Linked DNA regions of Homo sapiens. The protein of the gene in region 1 interacts with the protein of each later gene in a pairwise test. Each region holds a gene or a part of one and is shown in the gene's direction. Other genes may lie near its edges. The genes, in order: SMCHD1 and PEG10.

Region 1 (3,829 bases):
CGTACTCGAAGAACTGAATTAAGTCAGTGAATTAATAATCTGAGATTACATGGTCAACAAGCAGTGAAACTGGGATTGGAATTTAGGTCAATTTGATTCCAAAGCTTATGTATACATATACATATATATGTGTGTGTGTATATATATGTATATGTATATATACATATATATACACACATACACACATATATACACATATATACGTGTATACGCATATATACATATATACACATATATACACATATATATACACACACATATATATATTTTTTACACTACTCCACACTATTTATTAGAACCATCACTTTTGTCCTTAGGGGAAGAGACAAAATAATATACTAAAGTTTTTGTTAAAATGTAAATTAAACCAATAAATGTTTGTAGTGTCAGGCAGTATTATGGGTGATCCTAAACTGTTACTTATTTATTTATTTTTTTTGAGACGGAGTCTCGCTCTGTTGCCCGGGCTGGAGTGCAGTGGTGCCATCTTGGCTTACTGCAACCTCTGCCACCCAGGTTCAAGTGATTCTCCTGCCTCGGCCTCTTGAGTAGCTGGGATTACAGGTGCCTGCCACCACGCCTGGCTAATTTTAATACTTTTAGTAGAGATGGGGTTTTGCCATGTTGGCCAGGCTGATCTTGAACTCCTGACCTCAGGTGGTCCACCTGCCTTGGCCTCCCAAAGTGCTGGGAATACAGGCATGAGCCACCACGCCCAGCTCTAAATTGTTATTTGAATAAAGTTCACCTCATGGAAAAGGAGAGGGAAGAAATGGAAAGGACAAATCTGCAAGAAGCCCTTAGACCTCTGATAAGCAGCTGTTGACTCACCTGAGCCCTTGTGGCCTTGCAGAATCAACGATTAGAAGATGACTCATTTGGTTAGTTCTAAAATATGCCCAGATGTTAAGTCCCATGTGTGCATATCCCCCCACCACCAATTTGAAGAAATTGTCTACATTTTCCTTTGTGTGGCTCCAATGTTTTTTGTTGTGCGGCTATTCTAGGTGTTTTGTATTTTAATATAAGATGTGCTCATCAATTTCTACAATAAACTTGAGATTTTGAAAAAAAAAAAAAAAAAAAGCAGAAAACTATGGCTTAGCAAGTGCCATAGTAAGGTAACGAAATATAATGGAGCCACATTAAAAGCTGACTAGTTTGCAGAGTTTCAGAGCAGTGCTAATTAAGCTGTGTGCTTTCTGACTAATCCATGGATGAAAATTACCTGTTGTTCAGAGATAGTGAAAAAATAATTTTAAAAATAAAATTAACTGATCATTTTGGTAGGTAATCATTTTATGCACTGCAAGTCAGTTAGTCCTTAAATATTTAAGAGAAGTTGGGGACGGCATAGTGGCTTACACCTGTAATCCCAACACTTCGGGAGGCCAAGGCGGGCGGATCACCTGAGGTCAGGAGTTAGAGATCAGCTTGGCCAACATGGTGAAACCCCGTCTCTACTAAAAATACAAATATTAGCTGGATCTGGTGGCGGGTGCCTGTAATCCCAGCTACTCGAGAGGCTGAGGCAGGGAGAATTACTTGAACCCGGGAGTCGGAAGTTGCAGCGAGCTGAGAACGCACCGCTGCACTCTAGCCTGGGTGGCAGAGCGAGACTCTTGTCTCAAAAAACAAACAAACAATAATAAAATAAAATACTTAGAAAAATTGTGAATTCAAGAAATAATTTTTATAGATGAAGCAGGGAAAACAAAAAGATAGTTTATGTGTCTTAATTAAATAATAATAAATTTATAGATTAAAAATCCATGGTTTTTTTTTTTTTTTTTTTGATGGGAGTTTCACTCTTGTCACCCAGGCTGGAGTGCAGTGGCGCAATCTTGGCTCACTGCAACCTCCGCCTCCCAAGTTCCAGCGATTCTCCTGCTTCAGCCTTCCAAATAGCTGGGATTACAGGCACCAGCCGTCATGCCCGGCTAATTTTTGTATTTTTAGTAGAGATGGGATTTTACCATGTTGGCCAGGGTGGTCTGGAACTCCTGACCTCAGGTGATCGATCTACCCACCTCGGCCTCCAAAAGTGCTGGGATTACAGGCATGCGCCACCATGCCCCCTGGAAAATCCATGGATATTTAATATGGATGAAAAATCCATGGATATTTCATATGGATTTTTGATGTGGATTAAAAACCATGGATTTTTAATATGGATTAATTTTAAAGTTTATTGCAGCACTATTTACAATAGTAAAGACGTGGGACCAACACAAATGCCTATTGATGATCAACTGGATAAAGATAATGTGGCACATATACACCATGGAATACTATGCAGCCATAAAAAAGAATGAGATCATGTCCTTTGCAGGGACGTGGATGAAGCTGGAAGCCATCATTCTCAGCAAACTAACACAGGAACAGAAAACCAAACACTGCATGTTCTCACTCATAAGTGGGAGTTGAACAATGAGAACACATGAACATAGGGCGGGGAACATCACACACAGGGACCTGTTGTAGGGTAAGAGGCAAGGAGAGGGAGAGAATTAGGACAAATACCTAATGCATGTGGGGCTTAAATCCTAGATGACAGGTTGATAGGTGTGGCAAACCACCATGGCACATGTATATCTATGTAACAAACCTGCATGTTCTGCACATGTATCCAGGAACTTAAAAAAAAAAAAAGATAGTTTGTGTGTCTTAATTGAATAATAGTAGATTTATAGATTAAAAATCTATGGGTTTTTAATATGGATTAGAAATCTGTGGGTTTTTAATATGGATTAGAAATCTGTGGGTTTTTAATATGGATTAGAAATCTGTGGGTTTTTAATATGGATTAAAAAACATCTGTGGGTTTTTAATATGGATTAAACATCTGTGGGTTTTTAATATGGATTAAACATCTGGGTTTTTAATATGGATTAAACATCTGTGGGTTTTTAATATGGGTTAAAAATCAAAAGAAAATGAACTATTTGCTCCAGTGCAGGAAAATACAGGCAATACTGGATACAATTAGATGGTCAGGAGCGATAACCCGGTTGCCATTGTTTGAAGAAGAGAATAAGGTGCTAGCATTCCTATCCGTAGATAATTTGACAGCTAGGAAATAGGGGGAGTCTTCTATGTAGTTAGTGAAGGCTAAATGAACTATTATATGCAGTTATCGTAGAAGAGTACTCAAAAAAATCTGTAAAAAATAAAGAAAGGCCGGGCGCGGTGGCTCACGCCTGTAATCCCAGCACTTTGGGAGGCCGAGGCGGGTGGATCATGAGGTCAGGAGATCGAGACCATCCTGGCTAACAAGGTGAAACCCCCGTCTCTACTAAAAAAATACAAAAAATTAGCCGGGCGCGGTGGCAGGCGCCTGTAGTCCCAGCTACTCGGGAGGCTGAGGCAGGAGAATGGCGTGAACCCGGGAAGCGGAGCTTGCAGTGAGCCGAGATTGCGCCACTGCAGTCCGCAGTCCGGCCTGGGCGACAGAGCGAGACTCCGTCTCAAAAAAAAAAAAATAAAATAAATAAATAAATAAATAAAGAAAGAAAGAAAGAAAGAAAGAAAAAATAATAGACTTATGTGGGATTATATGGAATAATTAGATATGTTTAGGTGAACATAGATCTTAAAAAAATCATTTGCACATAGTTTTTCAGTAACTACAGGATGCATAATTACATGATTTAACAAGTGGGACATTGGCCAGGCCTGGTGGCTCACGCCTCTAATCCCAGCACTTTGGGAGGCCAAGGCAGGGAGATCATCTGAGGTCAGGAGTTTGAGACCAGCTGGCCAACGTGGTGAAACTCTGTCTCTACTAAAAATGCAAAAATTAGCCAGGTGTGGTGGCACACGCCTGTAG
Region 2 (4,155 bases), on another chromosome or scaffold:
ATTTGCTGTTTAACATTTACAGAGAAGCTGATACAAACGCAGGAAATGCTGATTTCTTTATGGAGGGGGAGACGAGGAGGAGGAGGACATGACTTTTCTTGCGGTTTCGGTACCCTCTTTTTAAATCACTGGAGGACTGAGGCCTTATTAAGGAAGCCAAAATTATCGGTGCAGTGTGGAAAGGCTTCCGTGATCCTCTCGCTGCACCCTTAGAAACTTCACCGTCTTCAAACTCCATTTCCATGGTTCTGTTAATTCTCAAGGAGCAGCAACTCGACTGGTTCTCCCAGGAGCAGGAAAAACCCTTGTGACATGAAACATCTCAGGCCTGAAAAGAAAGTGCTCTCTCAGATGGACTCTTGCATGTTAAGACTATGTCTTCACATCATGGTGCAAATCACATGTACCCAATGACTCCGGCTTTGACACAACACCTTACCATCATCATGCCATGATGGCTTCCACAAAGCATTAAACCTGGTAACCAGAGATTACTGGTGGCTCCAGCGTTGTTAGATGTTCATGAAATGTGACCACCTCTCAATCACCTTTGAGGGCTAAAGAGTAGCACATCAAAAGGACTCCAAAATCCCATACCCAACTCTTAAGAGATTTGTCCTGGTACTTCAGAAAGAATTTTCATGAGTGTTCTTAATTGGCTGGAAAAGCACCAGCTGACGTTTTGGAAGAATCTATCCATGTGTCTGCCTCCATATGCATCTGGGCATTTCATCTTCAGTCCCCTCATTAGACTGTAGCATTAGGATGTGTGGAGAGAGGAGAAATGATTTAGCACCCAGATTCACACTCCTATGCCTGGAAGGGGGACATCTTTGAAGAAGAGGAATTAGGGCTGTGGACACTGTCTTGAGGATGTGGACTTCCTTAGTGAGCTCCACATTACTTGATGGTAACCACTTCAAAAGGATCAGAATCCACGTAATGAAAAAGGTCCCTCTAGAGGATGGAGCTGATGTGAAGCTGCCAATGGATGAAAAGCCTCAGAAAGCAACTCAAAGGACTCAAAGCAACGGACAACACAAGAGTTGTCTTCAGCCCAGTGACACCTCTGATGTCCCCTGGAAGCTTTGTGCTAACCTGGGACTGCCTGACTTCCTTTAGCCTGGTCCCTTGCTACTACCTTGAACTGTTTTATCTAACCTCTCTTTTTCTGTTTAATTCTTTGCTACTGCCATTGACCCTGCTGCAGGATTTGTGTCATTTTCCTGCCTGGTTGCTGAGACTCCATTTTGCTGCCACACACAGAGATGTAAGAGGCAGGCTTTAATTGCCAAAGCACAGTTTGAGCAGTAGAAAACAACATGGTGTATATCTCAAATTGCCTGACATGAAGAGGAGTCTAACGGTGAAGTTTCACTTTTCATCAGCATCATCTTTCACATGTTCATTATCATCTGCTCTTATTCTTGCATGTTTAAACACTTAAAATTTTTAGTATAATTTTTAGTGTGTTTTGAAGTGGTGACTAGGCTTTCAAAAACTTCCATTGAATTACAAAGCACTATCCAGTTCTTATTGTTAAACTAAGTAAAAATGATAAGTAACATAGTGTAAAATATTCCTTTACTGTGAACTTCTTACAATGCTGTGAATGAGAGGCTCCTCAGAACTGGAGCATTTGTATAATAATTCATCCTGTTCATCTTCAATTTTAACATCATATATAATTTCAATTCTATCAATTGGGCCTTTAAAAATCATATAAAAGGATATAAAATTTGAAAAGAGAAACCTAATTGGCTATTTAATCCAAAACAACTTTTTTTTTCCTTCAATGGAATCAGAAAGCTTGTCAATCACTCATGTGTTTTAGAGTAATTACTTTTAAAATGGTGCATTTGTGCTTCTGAACTATTTTGAAGAGTCACTTCTGTTTACCTCAAGTATCAATTCATCCTCCATACATTTGAATTCAAGTTGTTTTTTTGTCAAATTTACAGTTGTCAATTGATCTTCAAGCTGCAGGGTGCCTAGAAATGGGCCGTTGTCTGTAGCCCTGGCATGTGCACACGGACATTTGCCACCACTGCAAGCAAAAGTCTGGAGAAGTTCACCAACGACAAGAACGATTAGGGAAAATATGCTGCTGTGGGTTAACAACTCAGAAAGTCCCTGATCCACATTTGGCTGTTTACTAAAGCTTGTGATTAACTTTTTGGCAGTGTGTACTATGCTCTATTGCTATATATGCTATCTATAAATGTAGATGTTAAGGATAAGTAATTCTAAATTTATTATTCTATAGTTTTGAAGTTTGGTTAAGTTTCCTTTCACTCAATTGATTTATTTTGTTGTTAATCAAATTTATGTTAATTGGATCCTTTAAATTTTTTTTGGCATTTTCCAACAAAAATGGCTTTATTCATAAGAAAGGAAAAAAATCAATGGAATTTGATATCTAAAGAAGTTAGAAAGGGAGCAAAATAAAAAACATAAAGGAGATAGATGAATTAGTAAGCAAATCAGTAGTCGAGTTTTTCAAACTGGCAAAATTAATTAATTGACTTTTAGCCCAAATTTACATTGTTAATTAAATCAAGAAGGAAGAAGATCTAAGAGCTCCCATTGATAGGCAAGCCTAGAGAGAACTAGCTAAATTTATCATGCTAGGATATTGAAACACAGAAAGTTTACATACATTTATGAAGGGTCAATTTAGTTTGGACAGTGAGGTATTTGTCTTAGTGGAAAAAAGGAGAATTAGTCTGATCAAATCGTGAAGTAATACAGTGAACTTGCAGGTGCACAAAATAAGAGGGCCACATCTATATGGTGCAGTCTGGAATTCTGTTTAAGTTTGTAGGTACCTCTTGGACTTCTGAATTGATCCAGTTGTCATCCACCACAGACATCTCACATCAGATACAGACAGTTCCAAGATTGACAACAGAGAACAACCTGCTGGAAAGACCTGGGCAGAAATGGAGAGCCCTGCGGGAACCATGCTACATTTTCATCTAAAGAGAGAATGCACATCTGATGAGACTGAAAGTTCTTTGTTGTTTTAGATTGTAGAATGGTATTGAATTGGTCTGTGGAAAATTGCATTGCTTTTATTTCTTTGTGTAATCAAGTTTAAGTAATAGGGGATATATAATCATAAGCATTTTAGGGTGGGAGGGACTATTAAGTAATTTTAAGTGGGTGGGGTTATTTAGAATGTTAGAATAATATTATGTATTAGATATCGCTATAAGTGGACATGCGTACTTACTTGTAACCCTTTACCCTATAATTGCTATCCTTAAAGATTTCAAATAAACTCGGAGGGAACTGCAGGGAGACCAACTTATTTAGAGCGAATTGGACATGGATAAAAACCCCAGTGGGAGAAAGTTCAAAGGTGATTAGATTAATAATTTAATAGAGGATGAGTGACCTCTGATAAATTACTGCTAGAATGAACTTGTCAATGATGGATGGTAAATTTTCATGGAAGTTATAAAAGTGATAAATAAAAACCCTTGCTTTTACCCCTGTCAGTAGCCCTCCTCCTACCACTGAACCCCATTGCCCCTACCCCTCCTTCTAACTTTATTGCTGTATTCTCTTCACTCTATATTTCTCTCTATTTGCTAATATTGCATTGCTGTTACAATAAAAATTCAATAAAGATTTAGTGGTTAAGTGCAAACTGTGTCCTGATCATTTCAGCATCTACCAGCATCAAGGGAATGGGGTGGGGTAGGGTGGGGAAGGCTGAGAGAGTAGGGAGAGTGGGAGAGGCTAGAGTAGGGTGGGGCTGTGGGGAGGGTGGGATTGTTGGAAGGGTAGGGAGGTAGGAGGGTGGGTAGGGTAGGGGTGGAATTGAGTTTGGGATAGTGGGGTGGTGGTATAAAGAACATTATTGATTACAACCTAGTATGAATTATATAGCCAGAATACTCCAGGAAATCAGTTATTCCAGCTGCAAAAGTTTAACATATAAAATAAAGATACACAATTAATAGCAACTCTGGTTGCTATTATCACAAACTTTAACATCAGTTTTACTTTAAATACTTGAGATTCATTAATATAAAATTATGAAGTATTAGGACATAGAAGAAGAGTTTCAAAGGGCTGCTAGGTTCATATGACATGACAGTCACATAAATATGACTGTTTATTGGGAAGATAGTGACTAAAAGGAAA

Evidence for each region.
Region 2: the proteins of SMCHD1 (region 1) and PEG10 interact in a two-hybrid assay, tested with the Homo sapiens proteins (one large-scale study listed by BioGRID).

What each region holds. Positions count from the first base shown.
Region 1 is NC_000018.10:2,658,697-2,662,525, forward strand, and holds part of SMCHD1 (structural maintenance of chromosomes flexible hinge domain-containing protein 1), read left to right. Parts: intron 1-3,829. UniProt on the Homo sapiens protein: Non-canonical member of the structural maintenance of chromosomes (SMC) protein family that plays a key role in epigenetic silencing by regulating chromatin architecture.
Region 2 is NC_000007.14:94,666,041-94,670,195, forward strand, and holds the end of PEG10 (retrotransposon-derived protein PEG10), read left to right. Parts: 3' UTR 1-3,655; downstream 3,656-4,155.